2 separate regions of the Homo sapiens genome follow, and region 2 is linked to region 1. Evidence: fine-mapped expression QTL. A gene starts in region 1. The other region holds a variant in brackets. All regions are shown on one strand. Distances are from middle to middle.

What was found. PIP is the estimated chance that this variant, and not a neighbour inherited with it, causes the effect. A credible set is the group of variants that fine-mapping cannot tell apart.
Region 2: its variant is the best candidate, but not a certain one, in a credible set for the expression of LINC01794 in testis (GTEx, PIP 0.56).

Annotation. Positions count from the first base shown.
Region 1 is chr2:40,745,015-40,747,943 of GRCh38, reverse strand. It overlaps LINC01794 (long intergenic non-protein coding RNA 1794), which reads right to left and starts at 1,463. Exons shown (of 4, transcript NR_183396.1): 1 at 832-1,463. All of the region lies in intron 2 of LOC105374497 (a long non-coding RNA gene), which reads left to right.
Region 2 is chr2:40,753,229-40,756,157 of GRCh38, reverse strand. It overlaps LINC01794 (long intergenic non-protein coding RNA 1794), which reads right to left. Exons shown (of 4, transcript NR_183396.1): 2 at 1,529-1,592; 3 at 939-1,020. The region is part of intron 2 of LOC105374497 (a long non-coding RNA gene); the gene reads left to right. Among named protein-coding and RNA genes, the nearest start is that of LINC01794, 8.2 kb to the right of the region's middle. The variant C/AC (reference allele first, on the strand shown) is at 1,528.

The DNA of each region.
Region 1 (2,929 bases):
CGGTGAAAATTTAATATGTTACCTTAATAGAAATTTGTCTCAAAGAAAAAAAAAATCTTATTTCAGTTTATTAAATACCTCAACAGACCATTGTTTGGTAAACAGAATTGTGTATAAATAATCATCCATCAAATAGGAAAGCATAGTGTTGACAGAGAAAATGTACTTCATTTTAACCTGTCTTTAAGTTCTCCTTTCTTGAGAAATGATAATTTCATTATAAGAATTATAGGAAAATATGGATTTCACTACCAGAATTTCACTGTAAGATTGAATGACGAGCAAGTATTAATTATGTGTGTGTGTGTATACAAGAGAAAGAGTGAAAGACTGAGAAATGAATGAAGAGTAAGTGTCTTTTCTAATAAAACAGCAACATAAGCAATGTTAATATATTGGGCAATATGTGGGGCAGGAAGAGAGAGAGAGTGGAAGACTGTCGTGATAGGGTACAATGACATTAGTGACACTATCAGCTGTTGTAAGCTTGAATACGGTTCTGATAAGGGAGATGCAAATTGTGCCAGTCCAGAAAAAGACCAAGATGGATATGTAACTTTTTACCAGCAAAGTGGAGAATTTGTCAGCTTCTGCACATCTGTCAAAAGATTTTCTGAGTCATCAACTATACTTTGTCATAAACTTGTTCATGTCAAGCAGAGAGATGAAAAGTTCAGGGGAGCTCTCATCTCTACCATGAAGTTCACCTCTTCCTTAATTTCACTGGCAAGCATTGTAACTCTAAAATCTTGTCCTTATAAATTATTTATAAGTATATATGTAATTTAGAAAAATCCATAGATGGCAGTTTAATGCCTCTGAATAGCTTACCAAATGCAGAACTTCATTTTGTAGATATTCTTTCAGAATCTTTATGTAATAGAACTTTAATTTTTATTTTAAAACAAACATGTATTTATGGCCTGATAGAATTCCCTATTTTCTATATAATAAAGAAGATACTAACAGAGGTTTTGGTATTAGATAACATGTAGACAACGTAACCTGAAAATGCTCATGGCAGAAACTTAGAGGAACTCCAATAGTCTCCCTTCCTCCATAGAACTAGAACTCTAATTTTAGAATGCTGGCTGCTTAAATGCTACAATTCTCAGGAAGCTTCCAGGAAGTGTAGCCATATACCTAACATCTGACATATAAAGCGAGAAAGAATAATATATGCAACTTTGAGGATGTGTCTTTGAAAAGAAGGAAATGCCTTCTTTCTTCTCTACCTCCAATCTGCTCTGGAAAAATGAAAATGTTAAGTCCAATTTGGAAATTGTGTTACCGGTGGAGGGTCTTGACTGCAAATTGTCCAGGTTCTTGGCATTTTGAACAAAGAATTGGACAGAATGCACAGCAAAGCAATGAAAGAATGAAGCAATGAAAGCAAAGATTTATTGAAGATCAAAGTACACTCCACAGGGTGGGAGCTTGCAGAGCAGCTGTTCAACGACCCTGGTGACAGAATTTTCTGGGGTTTATATACCCTCAAGAGGTTTCCCATTGGTTCACTCGAGTGACCTGTGACTAGTCTGATTGGTTGAAGAGGAGGCCCACGACCAATCTGATTGGTTGCAGGAGGGGACCAATCAGAGGTACTTTCATTTTCCAACTGCCATGCAACAACTGCGAGGCAGCAAAAGGAGGGGTTACAACTGCCAGCAGCAACTGCCATGCAGAATAAAGGAGGGGTTGAAAAGGGAGTAGCCTCTGATATCGAGTCAGGCAGAATCAGCCTTAGGTTCCCTGCCTCCAAACCCTATTCTCCTTGCCTCGCTTGAGACCATGGCATATAGTATAGAAATTATGTAGAAGAAAGCTGAAATAAAGCTTACATTCTAGATAGATATGTAAACCTAAGCTACCTTCATCAGGACCTAGCTTTTCTCTTACATGAGAAAGAAAGAAACTCTTGTGGTTTAGCAAATTTTATTTTTATTTACTTTTTTAATGCTTTATTTTTAAGTAACTGAAGATTCACACACAGATGGGGAAATTAATATACAGAAATTCCATAAACTCTGCGGCCATTTTTCATCAGTTGTGACACCTTGTATAGCCATAGTATAAAATCACAACGAGGAAACTGGAATTTTGAGTCTTTCTTACAAACTTACTTAATAAAATAGTATTTATTTAGAATGTGCAACATTTGGATCTCTGTTTTAAACTTAAACCTAGCTGTTCCACTTTATGGTACAATTTACTTAGAAATACTGGATTTACTATTTTTAAGTCCTTTAAAAATTATAAGTGCTCTCACATAAAAGACTACCAGAGATTAAAAGCAAAGAGGAGACAAAAAAATTATAGCCATAACTAGAGTGCTTAGCTCTCAAACTGAAGCAAACCGGACAGATCTGGGGTGAAGGTGGAAAGGTTCCAGTCTTCTCATTGATGAAAGTGGGTTTTAGAGCAATATGGGAGCTGAAGATGTAGCCTACGGTCCTCGAAAAACTGGAGGGCAGCTCTACCAAAGTGAAAGAGTGGATTAAAACAAAATTAACTAATGCAGGATGGGTGGCCAGGACAGAAAAGAAATCCTCCCAAGCAAATTCACAATCAACTGCCTGGCCTACCCACAGTCTGGGGTTCACATTTGTATTATTTGGATCCATCAGGGTGCCTTGGTCCGTAAAAAATTAACATAAAAAGATTGGTCCAGGCTAGTGATACTCCTCAGGCTTCTGGAATAGTTACATATATGCTCTTTGAAAATGAACATATCTTCAAGTCAGGATCCACAATTCTCAAGGAAGACCTTGCAATCCAAGAGTACAAAGTGCCCACGAGCAAGAATAGACAGAAACAAACAAACTAACAGAGCAAGATTACATTCTGTATTTAATTCCCAAGGGCTGCTGTAACAAATTACCATTAAAGTTGTGGTTTAAAACAACAGAAATGTATTCTCTTACAGCTC
Region 2 (2,929 bases), 8.2 kb before region 1:
ATCCAGACCTCCAATAAAACATTTTGAAGCATATATGGCAAATTATATCAATTGTGGCTATTGAAAGAGTGAAGTTGACTGTCATAGTGGCCAAAATCATTGACTCAATAGGCTAATAGTACTATCAAGATCTTCCAAAAAATTCTGCTGTTATAAGTCTCACTCTATTAATGTAGTTTATTTGCTTACTAAATGAATGTACAAATGGGTAAGCAAGATTTAATGCTGATTCTTTAGACCAAAAAAAAAAAAAAAGAGTTCAATTATTTTTCTGGAAGCAAAGCACACACAACCAAACAAATACCAAAAGTAGTCATTCAATTCTATCTTTGCATTAAAAAGGAGCTTTTGAATTTTATGCAATTTGGAAAAAAAAATGTCATATGTTCAGAAGAGAAATCCTCTGTATTCTCTGTTAATGAGAGACATTTTAATCGAAATGTTTTTCATAAAGTTCATCTAAATTAATAATCACAATATATTAAAGTATCCTTAAAGGTGGGAATTACATAGTTTTTAATATTTGATATTAATTAGTGATAACAGGCACTCTTACCTATGAAATCGTTACTGTGAATAAGAAACTACCAAGGGCTACGTGGCTTAATTGATATTCAGATACTCATCTACTTTTAAATGTTTTATAAAATTTCAAAATTTAAAATGTTTCAAAGTTCATCTTTTTGACCAAAAAGTTAAATTATAGAATTTCGTTTTGTGTAGAGATTAGGAAATATGCTATTTAGTCATCAGAAGAATACCATCGGTATGAAATACTTTGTAGTGTTAAGTACTATTTGTTATTAAATATACATTTTCAAAGACACATGTTGATTTATTCTCAGGTGCTCAGACAAGAAGGTAGAAAAAGATAATTTTTAAAATTTGAATGGATTTGGCAACTCCTATTTTTCCCATCAGTCTAAATGCTTACTTACCTTATTCATCCATAAACTGTCTTCATTCAGAAATCCCATGTTAAATACTGTGTTAAGTTCTCAAAATAGCTTCTCCCTGATTCTTCAGGATAAAAGGTATATTGCAGATGTCATCTCCATGGCAGATTTCCTGTCTATTAAACCCATCAAATGAAATCCAAGCAGTGATCACAGCCCTTTGCTCTGGCATAATCTTAAACTCCCCTTTGCAGGTGAAATGGTGGCCTGGAATGCAGTGAAACTGGGTAATAAGCATTGCATGGTCTTTTAGAGGGATATTGAAAGCTGCTCCTTCTATTTTGTATATTGAACTAGTGTTTAGAATTACTCAAATCAGTCTAACTTCTTGTACTTCAGTGTAATGCATACATTTATATAAGCAGCAACACTGGAATTGTCAGAATAATGTTGTCTATTGATCATCGTATTCAAAATGTTCTTCTCTAGGCTGAGAAGTCATTTCATTTTAATTACTATCAATTCAAATTACATCTTTCTTTTTTCCAAGCAACTTTGCTACTTTTATGTTCAGCCTACTTTGGAAAATAATCACTGCCTTTCCTTCTGTAACCTAAGTAAAGTAAACTTA[C/AC]GATTTTTAAATGTGGAAAGAAATGGAGTAGTCAAGTCCAATGATATAATTGGAAGTTCATATCCCTGCAAATAGAAGCATAAAATAAAATAAAACACTACCCTTTCTAGGCATATGATGAAATCTATTTACTGGAGATATATACACATACCATCTTTTCTTAAAATGTAAACTTATTTTATTCTTTCTTGCTCTTCAATATTTAATATTGGCCAGACTCCTCATTAATTCTTTGTTCATTCAACAGGTATTTACTAAATACCTACAAGGTGCCTGCAAGTGGTGTTACATGAATGAAAAAAAATACATTTCCCTGCTCTGATAGAGGTTTAATCTTAGCATAGGGAAAAAGAAAAAATATATTAAACAATTACATTATATCATATGTTTGGAGGTGCTAAGTGCTTAGGGAACAAAAGGGAATGGGGAAAACCTGGCTGGGGTGGGAATCACAGTTTTACATATGATGGTCAGGTACATGTTACAAAGGTGATAACTGAGTAAAGATTTGAAGGATGTGAGGGAATGACCCATGCAAACTTTTTTTTTTTTTTTTTTTCAGGGGAAACAGTCCCCAAGTACAGGAAACAGCCAGTGCAAATATTCTGAGGTAGGCTCATTCCAGCATGATGAATAATTTTCAGCCTATGAACACTTTCTAAGGAGTTTTTCATTCAGGCCATTGGTCCAAATACTACTATTTGACAAAACTGAGAATAAAAGTAAGTCTCTCTCAAGTTCTCAAATCTCTCCCAAGTTCCCAGGTATGAGGCTTAACGTGCCCTGCTTCAGAAATTTAGTTTTCACATTAGGAGGCCAAATTTATGAGCTAAGACCCTTCCTCAAAATTATGCTAAAATGTGAGTGTTGTATAATACTGCATTTGTCTTTTCTTAAATTGAGATATGCATAGAAGTAATCATGTTTAAAGTATGTGAGTCTTGCAATGTTTTTCTCAGTTTTTCAGGCTGTAGAATCCTCTGCATCTCAGATTAGCTTTTAGCAGTAAGATAGAGGCCTCAATCCTGTGTCTCTTCCTATGCAGTTTAATCCTAAACTAAAGATAAAGTCTTACAGACTTTAATGAATCTTACTGCAAGTCTAAATCATGTACAGAACCCTGGTTTTAGAGAGTATTAGAAATTTAGTTTATAGTTTTATTTTTCTAACTTCTGCTAACAATAAAAACTTCCTAAAAGTCAATAGGAATAAGTATTAGGCAAATTAGTCTCATTCATAGATCTGTCTAAAACAACAAAAAAAGAAAGCAGTTTGGTTCTGTGTCTTTTTTTTGTTTGTTTTGCAACAGTGCATTTCAGCAGGGTAAAATACATGAATAAAAGACATCAATTTTTTAGACTGTCTTTAAAGCTGCATGTGGCTAATGACTGAGATGTTGCCA